3 linked regions of the Homo sapiens genome follow. Each later gene encodes a partner of the first gene's protein in a complex. Each region holds a gene or a part of one and is shown in the gene's direction. Other genes may lie near its edges.

Evidence for each region.
Region 2: STX18 (region 1) and STX5 share a complex: the UniProt entries of both Homo sapiens proteins name them as parts of the SNARE complex.
Region 3: STX18 (region 1) and BNIP1 share a complex: the UniProt entries of both Homo sapiens proteins name them as parts of the SNARE complex.

The regions. Positions count from the first base shown.
Region 1 is NC_000004.12:4,455,027-4,462,050, reverse strand, and holds part of STX18 (syntaxin-18), read left to right. Parts: intron 1-78; exon of another isoform or gene 79-145; intron 146-2,563; coding exon 2,564-2,679; intron 2,680-4,550; coding exon 4,551-4,628; intron 4,629-4,793; coding exon 4,794-4,860; intron 4,861-7,024. UniProt on the Homo sapiens protein: Syntaxin that may be involved in targeting and fusion of Golgi-derived retrograde transport vesicles with the ER.
Region 2 is NC_000011.10:62,829,040-62,836,633, reverse strand, and holds the start of STX5 (syntaxin-5), read left to right. Parts: upstream 1-4,582; 5' UTR 4,583-4,680; intron 4,681-4,978; exon of another isoform or gene 4,979-5,183; intron 5,184-5,371; 5' UTR 5,372-5,390; coding exon 5,391-5,615; intron 5,616-7,594. Other genes in the region: WDR74 (WD repeat-containing protein 74), read left to right, coding at 598-715, 793-939, 1,102-1,203, 2,107-2,207, 2,303-2,358, 2,697-2,842, 2,960-3,016, 3,503-3,682; TEX54 (testis-expressed protein 54), read left to right, coding at 3,884-4,258. UniProt on the Homo sapiens protein: Mediates endoplasmic reticulum to Golgi transport.
Region 3 is NC_000005.10:173,147,519-173,154,542, forward strand, and holds part of BNIP1 (vesicle transport protein SEC20), read left to right. Parts: intron 1-4,047; coding exon of another isoform or gene 4,048-4,176; intron 4,177-6,803; coding exon 6,804-6,895; intron 6,896-7,024. UniProt on the Homo sapiens protein: As part of a SNARE complex may be involved in endoplasmic reticulum membranes fusion and be required for the maintenance of endoplasmic reticulum organization. Also plays a role in apoptosis.

The DNA.
Region 1 (7,024 bases):
CTTGTTGATACTCTGCTCTTGAATTAGACACACTCAGGCATTAGTGCCACTGCGCAGCCGCAGCCCCTGGAGCACAGACAGCAGGGACAGGCCCCTTTGCAACATAGGAGAGAGAGGAACAGAGCGGAACCTCTGCTGTCTCTAAGTAGGTAAAAGAGAGGAGAGAAAGGTGTGGTGACTATATGCACACCCCATGCTTTCTGCGAGGGGGCCAGAGGGAGGAGGCTCTGGGAGGAGGCAAGGTGTCATTTGGGGAAGTTGGTTCCCACAGAAACATGAGGATTAGGGAATAAGCATTCCCCCCGGTAGCCCAGGTTCTGTCCAGGTGGAGAAAGACCACCCTTATTGTCTCTCATCAAGTTCTCCCTCCCAAAGGTGGTAGACTGCTTAAAGCCTTTCTTTTTTACTCTTCTGCCCTCCCAGTGCAATGTGCTAGCCTTGGCCTGCTCCTAGGAACATTTTATGTGGAGTATGATCATGGAATTGAAAGAATATGTGTAGAAATACTGCCTTCAGACCTATGAGGCTTTGTTAGTTTGACATAATTAGGAAGCTGTAATTTTTTCCAGAATGTAGAGCTCAGACTTTATTGACCCATTTAATTTTTTTTTAATAATGACATTTTACTAGAGCAGAACAGCATGTAACCTAGATAGCCTGTGGCTAGATCTCTGAATGATTTTAATTAAAAATAATGTCTCCACTTCTGGTAGATGGACTTTTTCCACAATATCCTGGCAACAAAACAATCTGGGAGAAAAAACTTCCTTGGTTTCTGTTGTTCTTACTAATAGAATAACCATACTGTCAATTTTCAATTTAGAAGGTTAATGTATATATATAATGTTTCCTAAAGGAACATTACCTTTTAATTAAATAATCAGTTTTATCAAATTAACCTTTAGACCTTTTCAATTTCACTGAGCTGAGTTTCCATTAAATCAAAATATAGAGTAGGAGGATGTTAATCGAATGTTCTTGGAACTAGTCATTTCTAGGTCTGTTCTGTCTGCAGGGTACATATTCACTGAGTTGGTACCTTTCTGACTCATTTGTCCCTGACCCCGTTAGCCTCTATTTCCGATGAGAAGGTTCCTAGTAGGGATGAACCTAAGGCTTTGGCCCCTCTGCTTGCCACTCTGGCTCCTCCCCAGAGGGGAGCCATTCATCTGGTGTTGGAGGTGGGCTGGGGTTGGGGAGAGGGGATCGAGCTTGCTGGCTTAGCGCCTTTGTCTCACTGTTGGGTCTTCCCTCGGACAGAGTCCATTCTCTCATGGTTGCCATCCCAAGCCTAAGTAACTAATAGAACAAGATCCTAAGGAGCATTGGAATAAGGAACTAATTCCATGTCACTCTTCAAGTTCCACTGAGAGAGGATCATCTATTCCCTAGGAGGCTGGAGGCTGTGGGATTTCTTTTTCCAACTCTTCCTTAGAAAATATGGAAGTGGGGTAGGGGCCGTGGGATAGGGGTGACTCCAAGGGAGGAGAGGATGCTTATCTGGTGATTGGGAGTGAGAAGGACTTCGTGCTCATCTTACCCCTTTCTTTTTTAGAAGGGCCTGTCCTCAGGATGGATGTATTCCCTGTTTGTTTGTGCCTTAAGTTTCCTAGAGAAGGCTTTGGGAGGGGGATGCCTACCTGTCTTGGGGTGGGGGGAAAAATCGGTTTAGGAGGAACTTACTAGGGAGCACAGTCGTAGCTGTGTATCAAGCATATTCTCCAACTCAGGCTCATTCATTGGTTCAGTTCATTCAAAAGTATTTATTACTGATTTATTAATTGATCAGCCTATTAAAAATGCTAGGCATTGCTCTTGATGATGGGGATACAGCAGTGAACAAACAGAAGTCCTTGCCTTTGTGGAACTTACGTTTTTAGAGGGGAGAGACAGGCAAGAAAAGAAATAATTACACAAAATATATGGAATGTTAGAGTGGGGTAAGTATCTTTACGGGGAAGGAAGAAGGGAAGTGGGATAGAAAATGTCAGGGAGGGGACAGTTTATAAAGAAGGATTAGGGAAGGCCTCATTAAGAGGGCAACATGGAGTAAACACCTAAAAGAAGTAAGGGATGCATTGATGCAGCTATCTGGGGAAAGAACATTCCAGAAGGAGGAGACAACCAACACATGTAAAGGTCCTGAGGTGGGAGTGTGCCTGGAATGTTTAGGGAACACCCTCCACCCTCTGATTCAGTCATTTTGTAGTGTGAGACCCTTCAGTAGCTGCGCCATTGTTCTCAAAAGCAGAGCCTACATTCTTTATAAGCCTGGCTTATGCTGTAGCCCTGACTCCACGCTCCTTCTCCCTCTCCCTCTCCCCATCTGGCTTACGTCAGTTGGGTCTATTCCGGAGGATTTTCTACCACACACCCTTCATATGTGTTCTACTATCTATCTAGATGGTTCTCTCACCTTTTCACCTGGCCTGTTCCTCCTCACCCTTCAAGTCTCAGCTTAAATGTCACCTGATCAGGGAGGCCTTTTCTTCTCTTCCCATCCCACTCAGACTATATTATGTTCTCATTTGCTGCTGCCCTTTCCTTTGCTGTCTTTTTTTAGCCATACCATGTCTGAATATGGGAGGATGACAGACACAGAACGAGACCAGATAGACCAGGATGCCCAGATATTCATGAGGACCTGTTCAGAAGCAATTCAGCAACTACGAACAGAAGGTAAAGTGCTCTGAAAGATGCAAACAAGCAACCATGAATATAGCAAGTAGTTAAACAAGATGCATATGGTGCGGCCAGTTAAAATTCCCTCTTCTTATTTCGATTTAGGTTTTAAAACGTTAAAATCTTTTCTTTCTTGATCAATGTTTTAACCAAAGCTGTTAAAAGTACTGCAAAGGCTGTATCATTCAAGTTAAACCAATGAGAGGAGGGAGATGGAAAGGACCTCTCCAAACAGAACCAAAAATATATCTAGGGGCCAGGGGCAGTGAAGACAAATTTGTGTGTGTGTGTGTGTGTGTGTGTGTGCGTGTGTGTGTGTTCTGTGTGGCAAATTGTATGTGTGTGGGTGTGTATGTGTGTATGCACATGTGTGCCTCTGTTCTGTGTGGCATTTAGTGGGATGGGAGTTGACAGCAGCCTGGGGTACTTAAGCTCTACTTGTAATATTCAAGTAAACTTTCCTATCAAACCTTCAAGGTTAGGAGGAAGGCTCTGGAGCCAGGGCTGCTTAGGTTGCACCCCAACTCCACCCGTCCGAGCCATATAGCCCTCTGCAAATCACTTAATCTCCCTGGGCCTTGTTTTTTTGTCTATGAAATGCAGACAATTAGGGAATGTATCTCTAGGGTTGTTATGAGCATTAAGTTAAATTCCTACAGCATGCTTAGAACTGTGTCTGGCACAAGAGCGCTTATTATCTCACTTTCGTTGATGTTTAATTCTCACTGAGACAATGAGATGGCTTCCCAAGTCACGCCTCTTTCTTGATTCTTTTTTAATTTGCTTAGGCATTTACAGAGTACATTAAATAGTAAGTAGAGTTCAAAGCTGCCAGATGCTGTTGTGCTCACAACACAGACTTTTGTTGGGGAGGTTTTTATTAGAATGCTGACGGACCACTTGGAGACTCTGATGGAAGCAATAGGCATTCTTGCCAGAAAAATGTACATACACAAAATTCTATATGCAATTTCACAGAGCTCCTGAGTCCCCCACACAAATCTTGGGTTAAGCAGCCCTATAGTAAGGCAGAAATCATGCCCTCTACCCTTAAGGGCATATACATTCATTGAGAGACCTAAAAAATGCACAGGAATATTTAACAAAACCTACATTTACATATGAAACCATCTAACCTTGGGCTATTTATTGCCTCTGAACCTTAGTTTCTTCACGTGTAAAAATCAGGAAACTCGGAATTGCTATTGTAATTACTAGCAGTACATATGTAAAGTGCTAGCAGAGTACCTGCACGCAGTAGGCACTCAGTCTCTCAGTCAGTGGTCACTATCTTACCAAAACCAGTGGCACAGACTTTAGGTCTGGTAAGGCCTTTTAGCACACTTCTGTGTGGTAGTTCCCAGGAGAAAGGCATCTTTGTGGCTAGGAGTCATAGGTTTCCTGGAGACAGAAAGTTTGACTCATTGTCTAAGGGACCCTTAGAATGTGAGTGGCCAAGGGGAGAGGATGGGGCACTACAGGCTGAAAAGCAGCACAGGTTCAAGCAGGGAGGAGTGTGTGATTTCAGTTGTTTAAACATGTTCGCTGAAGGTCAGCTTGAGCATTGGATGCTGTTAACACAGATGGGGTCAGCACTCAAGAAGTGGCTGCGTCAAATACTATCCTTAAGTGTTCTGATAAACCATAAATTATTTGACTATAGATTTTCTACAGGTTTAATCTTTCACTCTTGCGAAGCCTGATACATCTTACTGTTTTAAAAATGTAGTGTCACTTGGCACAAGACTTGTTTTATAGCTGTGTTTTAAAAAATACTCTCAATAAAGAAAGTGTTGTGAGGAAGCTGATGAATTGCTCTTTAGGATAATTGAGTGCGAAGGCCTGAACATTGTCTTTTTCTGTTACAGCTCACAAGGAGATACATTCCCAGCAAGTGAAGGAGCACAGGACCGCTGTTTTGGATTTCATTGAAGATTACTTGAAAAGTATTTCATTTTCTTTTAAAGGTCAAATGTAACATTTCACAATAGATGTGATGCAGAATTTAGCTTTGCTAGCTGAAGACTGTAGTATCTCATTATATTTAATGATGGCTTTGCCTGAGAAGCTGTTTTAAGCAGTCTCTCTTCTGGTATTTTCTTCTGCAACAGGAGTATGTAAACTTTACTCAGAACAGAGAGCCATCCGAGTTAAAAGAGTGGTGGATAAGAAAAGATTGTAAGTATTGCTTTCATTGGTGTTTCTTAATTAATAATAGTACTACTAATAATAGCAGTTAAAGTTTGTAGAGCACTTACCCTATGCAATGTACCGTGTTTGAACTTCTTCGCAAAATGCCATAGCTGGCGCTACCGGGCACTCACTGTGTGCCAGGCAGCATGCCAGCCACTTTATTGGCCCACAACAAACCCCCATGAGGCAGGTACTGTTTCCTCCCTCATTTTACAAATGAGGAAGTTGAGGCTCAGGAGGCTTGGCCACTCACCCTAGATCCCACAGTCCCACAGGTAGCATAGCTGGGGTTTGAGCCTAGGCTGTTGGTCCAAAATCTGTGCTCTTGCCCATTTTGTCTCTTAACCCGATGAGGCTGGCACATCTTGAGCCATTTTACCTCAATCTCTTTGACCCCCATACCCCTTCTTGTCGTCCCTGAAAGTGTATTCCTGAGAGAAGAGCGAGGGCACAACAAGCAGGCCACCACAAGGCTGTCCTCAGGTCACCTGTGACAGACTTGCTCGATGCCACATGCTCTGAGTGCACACCTCCCTCCAACCCCACTACCTGTCCCATGCAGGCACTATTAGGAGCCCTGTCAGCAGGTAAGGACGCTGACGCTCCAGCAGGGTAAATGACTCATCCAAGGCCACAGGAAGCAGGAGGGCCAGGCTCCTGTATTTTCCATGGCGCCTGCCTGGTTTCCCCTCTGGGCTCACATGAGCATCTGGAATGCAAGAGCTGTGTCCTCACAGTCGTTCCCGCTGCAACTCAGCCAGTCTTGGAGATGGAATACATCAGTGAGCAAGTATCCAAACCTGGACCATTTCTAGACTAGCTTTAGAAAGGTTTTAGGATGTTCTTTCAGAAGATAACATCACATAACTGTTTGGGGACACATTTTCTTTTTTGTTTTTTTTTGTTTTTTTTGTTTTTGAGACAGGGTCTCACCCTGTCTCCCAGGATGGAGTGCAGTGGCACGACCTCCTGGGCTCAAACAATCCTCCCACTTTAGCCTTCCGAGTAGCTGGGATTACAGGCATGTGCTACCATGTCTGCCTATTTTTTAATTTTATTTTATAAGGGTGGGATGTCACTATGTTGCCCAGGCTGCTGTCAAACTCCTGGGCTCAGGCAATCCCCCTGCCTCCCAAAGTGCTGGACTACAGGCGTGAGCCACCATGTCTGGCCCACATTTTTTAAATTCTTACTGTGTCAGGGGTCCCCAGCACTACTCTCTGGTTCTAGGATTCACTAAGAGGTCTCATGGGACTCAACATACAGTCCTGCTCCTGGCTATGATTTGTCACACTGAAAGGATACGAAGCAAAACAGCAAAGGAAAAGGCATGTGGGACAAAAGTCCAGAGGAAACCAGGCATGAGCTTCTAAGAGTACTCTCCCAGTGGAGTCACACAGCATGTGACCTATGACAACACGTGAAGTGTTGTCTACCAGGGAAGCTCATTAGTAACTCATTGCCCAAGGATTCTGTTAGGGGCTGGTCACATAGGCACCTCACACCTGGCATCTACCGAAACTCTAGACTCCCAGGAGGAAAGCAGGTGCTCAGCACTGAACTGCATTCAAACCGCATGTTTTGCAAAACAGTTCAGGCACGGCGAGCTGTTTTTATCAATTAGGATGGCATGAACTCTGCCAAAGTCCAACTTCTCAGATGCCAGGCAAGGGTTAACCTTGCAAGCAGGCCTTTCTAAGGATAGCAGCCTCAGGCCTACTACATGAACCCTTTTCTGCACATTTGTGAAACAGATGTGAAATTGTTAATGCCAACAAATAGAAGCATTTGTGGAAGATAGTAAGCAGATCAGTCAAGTTATCTGTCAGCAACAGCTACTATTATATAATGCACTGAGAGGGTAGCTTGAGAGAAGCCATAGATTAAGTCTTTGTGCTTAGAGAGCTTAGAAGCAGGCTGGGTTGCTATTAAACATGAAAAATTAGTCAGCTTAATCAGGATATGTCATAATTAGTGAAATCGGTAGTAAGCTCAGAGGGGGAAATGGTACGATCAAGTGGCATAGTATAATGCCTAAGAGCCAGACTCTGCAACCAGACAGCCTGTGTTTGAATCCTGGCTCTGCCACTTTCAAACTGTGTGACTTTGAGCAGGTTGCTTAACTTTTCTGGGCTTTTGTTTCCTTACC
Region 2 (7,594 bases), on another chromosome or scaffold:
GAAAGAACATAGGCGCAGGCTGTGCAGATCCTGGGGAGAGACTTGCTTGGACTTCTCGGGAGGGATATTTTAAGCAAGAGACTGACATTTAGTGCCTGAAACTCAGAGCAAGGAACCCAAGAAGTTGGTGTTTGACTTTGACCAAGCCCTAAATTCAGACCAGCCCTAGTAAGCAACTCAAGATTCAGACAGACCAGTACAGCCAGATGCTAGACATAGCTGTGAACAGCAAAAGCACTCTGGAATATCACAGAGTTGATTTCTAGCTGTGGTTGTAACATAGCTGAGTGGCAAATTAGTTTCTCAGCGCTTCTATTTCCTCACTTGGTAAACCCTCACCCTGTTGAGAAAGTTGAATTAACAGATTAGGAAGCTGGAAGCTGTCAAGCCCTGCCTAGAGCCCAGTGACCTAGAGGCTTCCTTCTAAACTGGACTGTTAGTAGGGAATCTGGTTGATATGAGTTTGGGGCCTAGAGAATACTTTTATACTTTTTTTTTTCTTTAAACATTAGTCAACTGTAGTAGTAAGGAGGAGAGAAAGATTAGAACAAGGAGTTTAAGCACTTAAAAAATCCCAACTCTATCCTTTCTCTGCAGCACCCTCATCACATGTGTGGATTCTGGGATTCTCAGAGTCTGGCATGACAAGGACAAGGACACATCCTCTGACCCAGTGAGGCTCCCCTGCCCTGATGGTTGGGGGAGGTGGGCTGGGGTAGGTGCCTAATGATCACGCTGGGGAAGGGAGGATTAAGGACTCTGGAACGGACTCTTATCTCCTATTCTTTACAGCTCCTGGAACTGAGAGTGGGCCCTGGGGTGTGTAGGATGCGCCAAGACCCAGCACACCCCCATGTGGTTGCCACAGGTGGGAAAGAGAATGCTTTGAAGATATGGGACCTGCAGGGCTCTGAGGAACCTGTGTTCAGGGCCAAGAACGTGAGTGACAAGAGTGTGAAGGAGCTGTTCCTGAAGTCGAGGGAGGCTGAGGCCACTGACGATGCATTAGAGACTAGATGGACTTAGGGGGCGAAGGAGGGCTGAAAACAGGGGCACATCGAGCCCCCCATAGCCCTGTCCTCCATCTGCCCACCCCACCAGGTGCGGAATGACTGGCTGGACTTGCGGGTTCCCATCTGGGACCAGGACATACAGTTTCTCCCAGGATCACAGAAGCTTGTCACCTGCACAGGGTACCACCAGGTAAGGTGTCACCTCACACCTGCCTTCTCCTGGGATAAAGCAGCCTCCTGGAGAAATGGCCCCCACGGTTTGACACAACTGCTCTTCTCACCATTCTGAGTTCAGAGGAGCAAGCGCTTCCCCGTCTGTTCCAACCCTGTCCCTGAGCCCATGACCTTCCTCTACTGTATTCTAGGGTGGAGTTTCCTGAACTATGCCTGTTTTCCTCCCACCTGGAAGAGAGGAAAGGAGAGTGGATCCCCTTCACTGTGGGAATTATAGGGTGCAGGTGTCAGAGGACATTGGGCTGGGTGTTAAGAGAACTGGGTTCTGGTCCTGATGCAGCCTCTCTGATTTGCTTTGGGACCCAGGCCTGAGCCTCCCATCTCTGGCCTCAGCTCCTCAGCTTTACAGGAAGGGCCCGAATGGGGAATCTTTATGGTTTGTCTCATTTGAGGTCTTGAGACACGGGCGGGGCTGGGTCACTGTATTTGTCCTATTTTCTTTGCTTCTGCACATTGAAGTCTGATCTTGGTCATATGCCTCTGCTCAAAACACATATGAGGGCATCCTCTTTCCTCCTTCATTCAGGCTAACCCCTGCTTGAAATTTAGCACCTACTGACTACTAGACCAACTTGCTTTTCTGTCCCTCCATTTCCCCTAGATGGGAGTATGGGGGGATGGAATGCTCACACACTTCCAACCTAGGGGACCTCTCCCCTCAGCTCTGTCCATTTATGCTGCTAAGCAGCTCTCCTGACACCCTGATGCTCAGAGAAGAGGCATACATCTAAGATGAGAAAGTTTCTGGGAGTGGATCATAAATAAGAAAGCAGTGTGCAGGGAGGGGGTGAGGATGCAGAGACGCCAGAGGGTAGGTGCAGGGTGAGGATACTTTTGTGATGCTTCAGCCTTCCTCTAGGTCCGTGTTTATGATCCAGCATCCCCCCAGCGCCGGCCAGTCCTAGAGACCACCTATGGAGAGTACCCACTAACAGCCATGACCCTCACTCCGGGAGGCAAGTGAGTGTTTAGAGGGGAAGGGGTGGGAGGGTGGGGCTTGAGAAGGGCTCCAGGAGGTTACTGCTGATCCCACTTGCCTCTGGTCTCATCCTCAGCTCAGTGATTGTGGGAAACACTCATGGGCAGCTGGCAGAAATTGACCTTCGGCAAGGTGAGTGGACTAGGGTACATTGGGGGAAAGGAAGGAGCAGGGAGAAGGGTCAGGATTCCCTCTAAGGTGGTGCAGTGGGGCCAGTGAGGCCTCATTCAGGTGCCAGATTGCCTGGGTTTAAATCCTGGTTTCCCTAAAAGCTGTATGACCTTAAACTAATTATTTCAACTCCCTGTGCCTTAGTTTCCTCACCTGCGAAATGGAAATATTAGTAGAAGCTCCAGTCTCAGGGTTTTGTTGCAGATTAAATGTTGAAATGGAAAGTGATTGGAACAGGAAACAATGAATGGTTGGTTATTGGCCAGCCAGTTATCACGGATGCTTCCCCCCTTCTCTAGGGCGTCTACTGGGCTGTCTGAAGGGGCTGGCAGGCAGTGTGCGTGGGTTGCAGTGCCACCCTTCAAAGCCTCTACTAGCCTCCTGTGGCTTGGACAGAGTCTTGAGGATACACAGGATCCAGAATCCACGGGGTCTGGAGCATAAGGTAAGTTGTCTCTCCCACCTCCAACTCATGGTCTTGTGGAGGCCCCGCCTCCTGTGCCCTCCGTTCATGTTTCTGTCTCAGCATGCCTGGCTCCTTAAGGTCCCTCATCTTTTGCAGGTTTATCTCAAGTCTCAATTGAACTGCCTCCTCTTGTCAGGCAGGGACAACTGGGAGGTGAGCAGTTGGGCCCGGGAATGTGGGAGCCAAGGGCATAGATGTGAGGACCTCCCTATGGAGAGGAAAAGGAGGCAGCTGGAATGCAGACTTGGGACTATCTGTTTACCTGCCTGGTCACTTAATTTCTCTGAGAGGCATTAACAGTTAAAATCCTGAGAGGGTTATTGCCAACAGCATGGATGGGGTTGCTTTCTAGGAGCAGGGAATAAAGGTGGTGGTACCCAGAGGGATTCTTTCTCAGCCAGGGTCTCCTTCCCTGTGGGTTTGTCCCTGTGCCCCTGACTACTTTTCTTTTTTTTTTTTTTTTTTTTTTTTTTTAAACTTCTTTTTGTGGAGATGGGGTCTCCTTATGTTGCCCAGTCTGGTCGCTAAGTCCTGGGCTCAAGCAATCCTCCTGCCTTGGTCTCCCAAAGTGCTGAGATTACAGGTGGGAGCCACCGTGCCCGGCCCCCCTGACTCCTAAGCTTTCTTCCCACTCACCAGGATGAGCCCCAAGAGCCTCAAGAACCCAACAAGGTGCCCCTAGAAGACACAGAGACAGATGAACTTTGGGCATCCTTGGAGGCAGCTGCCAAGCGGAAGCTCTCGGGTTTGGAGCAGCCCCAAGGAGCTCTCCAAACGAGACGGAGAAAGAAGAAGCGGCCTGGGTCCACCAGCCCCTGACGCCCCTGTGCCCACTTTGTAAATAAACTGCTGAACACCCACCATGACCCTGAGCCTTTTGTGATGGGAGAAAGGAATGAGGGGTAGCTTGGGGTGGGGGCTGCCTGAGCTGGGGCGACGGGATATCTGATGTCACAAAAGCCGGGCCTGGAGGCAGGCAGGCTGGCGTGGGTGGCACGGAGTCCAGGGCCACGCGGGGCCATGGGCTGCTGCCAAGACAAGGACTTTGAGATGTCTGATGAGCAGTCCAAGGAGGAAGAGTCTGAGGACGGCAGGGAAGATGAGACCACAGACACACAAAGAGGGCCCAGGGAGTGTGAGAGGGGGCTTCCCGAGGGTAGGGGTGAGCTCAGAGGCCTCGTCGTCCCCTCAGGCGCCGAAGATATCGACTTGAACTCCCCGGACCATCCGAATCACAAGTCGAACGAAAGCCTTCTGATTACCGTGCTGTGGCGGCGACTATCCACGTTCGGTCGTCGGGGCTCCTCGCGGCCAAGCAAGAGGCAACCAGACCAGATTCGGAAGCAGGAGAGTCCGATCCGAGAAGGCAACCAGGAGGAGCCGGAGAAGGGATGACCCCAGACCTGCTCTCAGTCCGCCCCAACCTCCAGAGAATAAAATTTCTAACGTATACCTGCACGACCACTCTGGGGGACTGGGCGCGGACACCACCGGGCAGCTGGTTCTTTAAGGCTCCTTCCCGGAGGCGGGCCCAGCCCCCTGAGCGCCTGCTGTAGTACTCTGGGGCGGGGTCACGGTGGCGCCTTAGCCAATGGGAGGGCGGGATCGCTCTTGCGTTTGGGTGTGGGGCGTGTCTTTCGGGTCGCTGGGCTTGAAACGCGTGGGACCGCCCCCTCGTCACTGGGGGTGGGGTTACGTGTAGGTGACGTGGCCGCTTCCAGTCTTTGGTCGGGTTTCGGCGGCTTCAGTGCTCGGGGAGGAGGCAGTGACGGCCGGTGAGATTGGAAGTGGCGGCGGCGGCAGGCGGCAGAGGGGAGGTAAGATTCGCTTTAAGAGGGGATCTGGCCGCCGTGTCAGCTCTGGGGCAGTGGTTTTACGGGGGCGACGACTGGCGGGGGGAAGGGAATCAGGGGCGAGCGGGCAAGTCCTGCCGGCCCGGCTCCGGGTGAGCGAATTCCTTGCCGTCCAATCAGGAAAGCCTCTGTTGAGAGAGACGTCGGCCTTAGCTAATGAGTGGTTGAAGTCTTCCAGAAGGCGGACCTTGGGCGGGGGGTGGGACTTCCTGTTTCAAATAAACACCCAGAGGTTTTCCCCCTCCGCCCACCGAAGTGTGTCAGTCTTTGGAGGTCCGTCACTGGCCCTCCCGGAGGGGCCGAAGGAAACCGCGGAAACGAAAGGGCTGGGTTAGGGCCCGGGGCAGTTACACGGGCCGGGCCGGAGTCTCAGGACCACGGGGTTGGCTCTGGCCCTGTCTCTGCTTCAGGGTCCCCGGCCCGCGCTCTGGCCGCCAGAGCCAAGTTGGAAGAAGAGTCTGAAGCGGGTTCGACTTGGGACAGGGGAAAAGCGGGGCCCTTTCCGCTGCTGGTCCGCCCCAGGATTTGCGAGCGTCCTGGGCGCGAAAGTCCACGAGAAGTGCAGAAGGGGCTCGGGGATTTGTTGATTGGGGTGGGGCGGGGGAGTTTGGGTAAAGAAGTTGCCTGGGGAATGACACTCTCCCCTCCACAACAGTCCGAGGTTATGCGTCTCAATGATCCCGCGGAAACGCTACGGGTCTAAGAACACGGATCAGGGTGTCTACCTGGGTCTCTCAAAGACACAGGTCCTGTCCCCTGCAACTGCTGGCAGTAGCAGCAGCGACATCGCCCCTCTGCCCCCCCCAGTGACCCTCGTCCCTCCCCCTCCCGACACCATGTCCTGCCGGGATCGGACCCAGGAGTTTCTGTCTGCCTGCAAGTCGCTGCAGACCCGTCAGGTAAGGACCTGGAGTGGAAAAGGCGAGGAGTGAGCCTTACTCAAATCTAGGAAGGACTGTGCTCCACCACTGTTAACCGAAGTAATTTTGGGGGGTACCTGATGGAACTGATAGGCTTGGATGGGGCCTGTAGGGTCTGCTATAAGCAACAGAGAAGAGGTCGGCTGGCTAACTAGGGGCAAGGACTTAGACTTTTTTTTGTGAGGAATCCTTTGGAGGGCAGGATTGCTATTCTGGAGGGAGTACTTCAGAGAGTACTTGGCTGCAATATAATTGGTGTGAATAAGGAACAAGTTCTAGGAAGAGCCTTTAGCTGAGAAACATGCACCTTGAATTTTCCAATATACTTCTACCATAAGTTTGCTCTGTAACCATGAGAAAATTAGTTAATCTAGTTACATATTAGTTTTTATCTCTGTAAGATTAAGGACATTTTCTAGATAAGTAATTTGTTGTTTTTGTTTTGTTTTGAGATCTGTTTTTCAACTCTGTCAACAGGCTGGAGTGTAGTGGTGTGATGATAGCTCACTTGCAGTCTTGAACTCCTAGACTCAAGGGATCCTCTTTCCTCAGCCTCCTGAGCAGCTGGGACTACATGGATGCACCACTCAGCTAATTTTAAAATTTTTTCGTACAGGCAGTGTCTCACTATGTTGCCCAGGTTGGTCTGGACACCACACCTGGCCCTAGATCAGTAATTTGTATCAAAATCACTTAGGGTTGGATGTGGTGGCTCATACCTGTAATTCCAGCACTTTGGGAGGCCTAGGCCAGAGGATGACTTGAGGCCAGGAGTTAGAGACCAGCAGGAGCAACAAAGCAAGACCCTGTTTCTACAGGAAAAAAAAAAAAAAAAGCTGGACGTGGTGGCATGTGCCTGTAGTCCCAGCTACTTAGAAGGCTGAGCGAGGCCCAGTCTCTTCCTCTCTCTCTTTTTTTTTTTTTTTTTTTTTTGAGAAGGAATTTTGCCTTGTCGCCCAGACTGGGGTGCAATGGTGCAATCTCGGCTCACTGCAACCTCCTCTTCCTGGGTTCAAGCGATTCTCCTGCCTTAGCCTCTCGAGTAGCTGGGATTACAGGTGCCCGTCACCACGCCCGGCTAATTTTTGTATTTTTTTTTAGTAGAGATGGGGTTTCACCATGTCAGGCTGGCTTTGAACTCCTGACCTGAGGTGATCTGCCCTCCTCAGCCTCCCAAAGTGCTGGGATTACAGGTATGAGTCACCACACCTGGCCTCTCTCTCTCCTTTTTTGGAAACATGGTCTCACTCTGTCACCAAGGCTGGAGTACAATGGTTCTATCTCATCTCACTGCAACATCTGACCTCCTGGGCTCAAGCAACCCTCCTGCCTCAGGCTCCTCAGTAGCTGGGATTATAGGCATGTGCCACCACATCTGGCTAATTTCTGTTTTGTTAGTAGAGATGGGGTTTTACCATGTTGCCCAGGCTGGTCTCGAACTTCTGGGCTCAAGTGATCCGTCTGCTTTATCTTCTCAAAGTGCTGGGATTACAGGTGTCAGCCACTGCACTCAGCTCCTCTTAAAAAAAATTTGGGAGTGCTATTTATTTATTTATTTATTTATTTATTTTTGAGATGGGAATTTCGCTCTTGTTGCCCAGGCTGTAGTGCAGTGGCACGATCTTAGCTCACTGCAACCTCCGCCTCCCGGGTTCCAGTGATTCTCCTGCCTCAGCCTCCCAAGTAGCTGGGATTACAGACATGCGCCACCATGCCTGGCTAATTTTGTATTTTGAGTGGAGACGGGGTTTCTCCATATTGGTCAGGCTGGTCTCAAACTCCCGACCTCAGGTGCTCTGCCCGCCTCAGCCTTCCAAAGTGCTGGGATTGCAAGCGTGAGCCACCGTACCCAGCCGGGAGTGTTTTTTTCAACAATCCCAGTGGGACCCGAGTAAGCAGTTTGTGTTTGTTTGTTTGTTTGTTTGTTTGTTTGTTTTTGAGACAGTCTCTCTTTGTTG
Region 3 (7,024 bases), on another chromosome or scaffold:
CTTTCTCTTCTCTGCCATTCTTTCTACCCTATTCATTCATTCACTACCTCAATCCATCACACTCCTGGGTTTTTTTTTATGCTGTTACTTTGCTCAGCATCTTCCTTATTTCAATAGTCACCAGTCACATCATATACACATTTAGTATGCCTGAATTCAAGTATGGTATATGTGCTGTCTCAAAAAACACTAGAGGGTGACAAGTAGCAGTTATGTTTGTTTGTTTTATTTATTTCACATTTTATTCTTATTACATTGGGCTGGGCAAAGAGTTGTGCACCACTGTATAGATCATGTTATTCTGTTGCTTTCATTTTTAAAAATGAAAATGAGGCCAGTAGTTTGAGAACAGCCTGGCCAACATGGCAAAACCCTGTCTCTGATAAATGCAAAAATTAGCTGGGCATGGTGGCACACACCTGTAATCTCAGCTACTTAGGAGGCTGAGGCAGGAGAATCGCTTGAACCCAGGAGGTGCAGGTTGCAGTGAGCAGAGATCGTGCCACTGCACTCTAGCCTTGGTGACAGAGCAAGACTCTGTGTCAAAAAAAAAAAAAAAAAAAAAATATATATATATATATATATATATATATATATATATATATATATATATATATATTTTAATAGAGATGGATTTTTTGCTCTATGTTGCTTGAGCTGGTCTTAAACTCCTGGGCTCAAGCAATCCTCCTGCCTCAGCCTCTGAAAGTGCTGGGGTTACAGGCATGAGCCCAGACTATTGTGTTGCTTTCAGACAGAATTGGGATTCAGCTTCTAATTGTTTCCAAGTTCAGAATCTAGATCAGAATCAGAGGATGAAGACCACTTGTGGGTCTGGGGGCTGCTGAGAGGAAACACGTATGGAGCTGACTATGGAGGGGTCATGTTTCAAGGCTGCCATCTGGGCATCCAAGGATCCTGCATGCAGCTCATGGGTAGAGGGGCCCACAGCAGCCCCTCAAAGTGAATAGGGATGGCACAGGCCCAGGGCTGGAACTCAGGAGTTGGAAGGATGACTGCATCTGCACACTTAAAAAGATGCTGTCCATCTGTATCCTGGAATCCTGTGTAGGCCCTCTCCCTGAGGACAGGAACAGGGTTGGCTCCTTGGCCTCTGTTTAGCCTCATGAGTAGTTCAGTAAAAGTCCTGCAAACTTGTCATTATCTGGAGACATTCCTGCCGGCTCCTCTTCATGCCCCTCTACTTGAAGCACTAGGCAGTTGCTTTATATTGTTCATGATTCTTCTTCAGTTATTCAAATTTGAGATAATTGCATTCTTTTAGGGAACTCTGGATCTCCTGGTCACTCCAAGGGTTGATTACTGTTCTGATGGTTTTTCTGGTTTCTTGGTTTCTTCTTCCTTCTTTATTTCCTGAGGGTTTCTAGTAATTTCAGTCTGATGTCTTACGTTCTCCATTTTTATTCCTGAGTTTTCTCCTGGAATTCTTCTCACTGCAGCCACAGGACCTAATGTTGGGTTGGCAGAGAACTAGCACTTACTCTGCCCTAGTGGGACCTAGGAGAGTCAGGAGGTACCTGAGTGTGGAAACATGCCTGCTCCTCTAGACTTCTGGAGGTCTCTTAGAAGTAGCAGTTTGAATAGTGGAGATGTTTCCCCTGCTGTACCTTCAGTGAGGGTGAGGTGGGTGTCATGGATCTGCCCATCTGTATTAGTCTGTTTTCATGCAGCTGATAAAGACATACGTGAGACTGGGAAGAAAAAGAAGTTTAATGGACTTCTGACATGGCTGGGGAGGCCTCACAATCATGGCAGAAGGCAAAGAGGAGCAAGTCACGTCTTATATGGATGGCAGCAGGCAAAGAGAGAGCTTGTGCAGGGAAACTCCTGTTTTTAAAACCATCAGATCTCATGAGACTCATTCACTATCATGAGAAAAGTGCAGGAAAGACCCACCTCTGTAATTCAATCATCTCCCACCAGGTACCTCCCATGACATATTGTGAGAGTTACAATTCAAGATGAGATTTGGGTGGGGACACAGCCAAACCATATCACCATCCCTGGATGGGTCTTGTGGCACCTGGTCTTGTGGTATTGGGGTTTTGTATTAGGCCTTTCTTGCATTGCTGTAAAGAAATACCTGAGGCTGGGTAATTTATTTAAAAAAATGGGTTTAATTGGCTTAAGGTTCTGCAGGCTGTATGGGAAGCATAGCAGTATCTGCTTCTGGGGAGGCTTCAGGAAGCTTCCAGTCATGGCAGAAGGCAAAGGGAGCAGGCATGTCACATGACAAAAGCAGGAGCAAGAGAGAGATTGAGTGAGAGCTCACTTACCACTAAGGGGATGACTTATGCCATTCATTAGGGATCCACCCCCATGATCCAAACACCTCCCACCAGGCCCCACCTCCAACACTGGGGATTACCATTCAACATGAGATTTGGGCAGGGACAAATATTCAGACTATATCAGGTCTAAAGACTTGAGCTTTTTTGGCCAGCACAGTGGCTCACGCCTGTAATCCCAGCACTTTGGGAGGCCAAGGCGAGTGGATCGCCTGAGGCCAGGAGTTCAAGACCAGCCTAGTCAACATGGTCAACCTCCATCTCTACTAAAAGTATAAAAATTAGCTGGGTATGGTGACCCGTGCCTGTAATCCCAGCTGTTTGGGTGGCTGAGGCATGAGAATTGCTTGAACCTGGGAGTTGGAGGTTGCATTGAGCCAAGATTGTGCCACTGCACTCCAGCCTGGGTGACGGAGCAAGACCCTGTCTCAAAAAAAAAAAAAAAAAAGACTTGTGCTTTTCATATAACATGGCCCCCAAAGCCCACCAGCAACTCTGTTGTTGCTTAACAGAGGAAGACAGTCTGTTCTAAAGCTGGTAGAAAAGCTGGCCAGTTGGACCCCTGAGAAACAGTATGTCTGTGTCCTGTGTTTGCCTACCTCAGAGATTTTCAAGGGCAATTTTGAAAATGTGTAATTTTTGCTATTGGAGTTAACTATATGATTTTCAGCAGCGTCACCATACCTAGCTGATCTCTTCCTGCCTTCATCTCCAGTACTGATTTAATCATCTTAATTTTTTATTTTTGAAAAGATGTTCCTTTTACATGTTTTATGTATGTGTCTGTCTATAAGTATCAACATTCAGTGAAAAGTCTCAGTTATGCCCCAGTTTTGTTTTTTGTTCCACTCTTCCAAACAGGTAACCACTTTTGTTACTGATATGTCATTCCAGAGTTTCTCTACTCAAATATTTAAAAAGACAAATTTCTTTTTTTTTAAAATTTCTTCCTTGTTTCTCATCTAAAAAGTAGCATACTAACACACAGCTTTTAAAAACTTTATACTTTTGTTTTTTTGTTTTTTTTTAAGACGGAGTCTGGCTCTGTTTCCCAGGCTGGAGTGCAGGTGTGATCTCTGCTCACTGCAACCTCCACCTCCTGGGTTCAAGCGATTCTCCTGCCTCAGCCTCCCAAGTAGCTGGGATTACAGGTGTGTGCCACCACACACAGCTAATTTTTCGTATTTTTAGTACAGACGGAGTTTCACCGTGTTAGCCAGGCTGGTCTCGATCTCCTGACTTTGTGATCAGCCTGCCTCAGCCTCCCAAAGTGCTGGGATTACAGGCGTGAGCCACCGCGCCCGGTCAAAACTTATACTGTTAAGTATAATTTTATTATACGTATATTGGAAATTTTTCCATTTCAGTAATCAGAGACTGTCCTCATTTTTCTTTTTTTTTCTTTTTTTGAGACAGGGTCTTGGGCTGTCACCCAGGCCAGAGTGCAGTGGCACAATCTCAGCTCACCACAGCCTTGATTTCCCAGGCTCAAGCGATTTTCCTCCTGCCTCAGTCCCCCAAATAGTTGGGACTACAGGCGTGCGCCACCACACCCAGCAAATTTTTGTAGTTTTTATAGAGACAGGGTTTTGCCATGTTGCTCAGGCTGGACTTGAACTCCTGGACTCAAGTGATTGCCTGCCTCAGCCTTCCAAAGTGTTGGGATTACAGGCAGGAGCCACCACACCTGGTCTCTCATTCTTTTCTAAATAACTGTCATTTTTTTTTTTTTTTTTAGCCAGTTCTCTATCAAAGGGCATTTATTTGGACTGCTTCCACATTTTTTTTTAAGCTAACTTATTCCCTGACAGACTTTTCTTCAACTCAGCATGACTTCAACTCTCCAACTACACCTGTTACCTTCAGTGTGAGTATTTGTATGTTCTTTTTAAACATCTGGGTGCCCACCCAGTGTTTATTTCCTTCACTCATTAAAATGACCTCACCAATACGTGTACATTTACATATTTATTATGGCACCTAGGAAGGACCTAATAAGCACATGGCCAGTAAATGAATAACCCCATCCCAGTTTTAATCTGCGTTTCTTAAGTATTTACATACTCTTTTTGTATCTGGAAATAAATACAAGATTCCTGTTTGTTTGCCATTTTTAGCTTTTATTTGAATGTCTTTTTTGTGTATTTCCAACAAGATCATGTGATACTAGAGAACTGGCCTCATATCCTCAAAACTGGGTGTTCTGCACATGGTGAATCTTGGGCACTGACTGTGTATAAATATCTGTGTGTTTGTCTTTGTACATATAGCTCTCAAACTGGAATTTGAGGACTGCTCTCCCCCGCCATTCCTTTCTCCAGAACTATCACTGGTTCTCTTTGAAAGAACTTCCAGGCAATCTTTCATGAGTAAATTGTACATTTCTCCCCCTTTTTAATCCCTCCGCTTTTCCCATGCGTTCATTCTTCCATTCAGTGACTCAGTGCCCAGTATGTGCCAGGCACAAGGAATATATGTAGTGAATAATGTGAGATACAGCTCTGCTTATTCATAGAATTTACATTCTTTTTTTTTTTTTTGAGACGGAGTCTCACTCTGTTGCCCAGGCTGGAGTGCAGTGGCACGATCTCGGCTCACTGCAATCTCCACTTCCCGGGTTCACGCCATTCTCCTGCCTCAGCCTCCCGAGTACCTGGGATTACAGGCGCCCGCCACCACGCCTGGCTAATTTTTTGTATTTTTAGTGGAGACGGGGTTTCACCGTGTTAGCCAGGATGGTCTTGATCTCCTGACCTCGTAATCTGCCTGCCCTGGCCTCCCAAGGTGCTGGAATTATAGGCGTGAACCACCAGGCCCAGCCCATAGAATTTACATTCTAATAGGGAATACAGATTTTAAACAAATAATTATGAAAATAATTGATGACATTTGCAAAACTTTTCTAATTCACAGTTGATTATTTCTTTTATTCTCTACCTCAGCAATATTTGGAGGCATAAATTGAAAGTCATCTCTGTGCTATTGAAATGGTGGATACACAAACTTGTTCCAAACCAGTATGTGCAAATTGATACGTAAATCAGTAAATTAGTATATAAATGAGCAAATACATTGATGTTTCAGATCAATAGCGTGATTGAAGCTAGAACCTGTTTTAATTTGTAAACCAAAAAATGTGATTGGTATAATGCTATCTTTAATTATAGTCCCTCTTGATGGTTCTTTTATCTGAAGTTCTTGGGGTTTAATACTTCTGGGTATGTCTGCTGACCCTAACTTATAGTGGGTTATTTCCTTGGTGTTAGGTTATTTTGGACTGTGAGCGCTCATCTTAGCAGACCTTATCTGAGGGACTTTGTGCAGCTGGGTCGAGGCCAAGTCTCTACAGAGGTTTTTGCATTAGCTTCCCGCCAGGTCTCCTGAGATGATCACAAGTCTGACAACATTTTTTTTTTTTTTGAGACAGTCTCTCTCTGTCGCCCAGGCTGGAGTGCAGTGGCGCAGTCTTGGCTTGCTGCAAGCTCTGCCTCCCGGGTTCACGCCATTCTCCTGCCTCAGCCTCCTGAGTAGCTGGGACTACAGGTGCCCGCCACCACGCCCGGCTAATTTTTTGTATTTTCAGTTGAGATGGGGTTTCACCATGTTAGCCAGGATGGTCTCGATCTCCTGACCTCGTGATCTCCCCGCCTCGGCCTCCCAAAGTGCTGGGATTACAGGCGTGAGCCACTGCGCCCGGCCGAGAACACTGTTTATGTTCATTTCTCTTCATGGAGTTTCACGAACCACTCAGGGAAGATAAATTGAACCCTAGATCAGTGGAAGGAGCAGCTCCCTGGTTGGTTATAAATTCTCAGGGGAGTTTTTTTTTAACCCCTCTATTTGGAACTCATAGCAAAAAAAGGCAAGCATCTATGTTTTCCCTCTGTGCTGGTAGATGGACATTTTTTTATACCATTTTCCTGTGTCTGTAACCTTTCGTGGGTTTTAGATTTGTGGTGATCTCAGTTCAGCTTCTCAACCTCAGCCTCAGATGGCTCAGGGCTTCATTTTTCTGTCCCTGCACGAGCTCTCAAACCTTCAAGCGCTCAAACTGCCTATTACTCGTCTTTAATTAAATAGGCACAGAAATTGTGAGTATCTGGAAATGAACAGCAGTTTGATATTTTAATGATATCTAAGTGGGGGATCAGTGTGCTTGTATTTCGTCATTGTTTTTCTTTTCCTTTCGGGCCTGCCCTAGGTGACAGGAGCAGCAGCTCTGACGCCAGGACAGCCGTGCATCACTCCCAGGCTGACTATTCCAGCTCTTGTTCCCTTCCCACTTTTGGGCCATAGGGGTTTTCCTTACTTCCTTGTGGACTTAGCTATAGATTTAAAAGGATGTGTGTTATATGTTACCTAGCATTCCTAGGTGTTCTGTTTTAAAAGGGTGCTTCAAGTGCTATTGTATGCCCTTGGCAGAAATAGAAATGCTCTTCTGCTTTCATGTTGACTTTTGAAATCATTTTAACATGGAATTATTTTTCCTCAAAGGACCTGGAGCAGTTGGCTAAAGAGCAAGACAAAGAATCAGAGAAACAACTTCTACTCCAGGAAGTGGAGAATCACAAAAAGCAGATGCTCAGGTAGGCAGGGCCTGCCCCCGCCAGCGGCTTCTGCTGGCTCTTCTTGTTGCCTGTGAGCCTTGCACGTGTGTTTGCCTGATGGATCTGCTTTAATGCTGACTTAATGGTGTCTTTTTTTTTTTTTTGAGA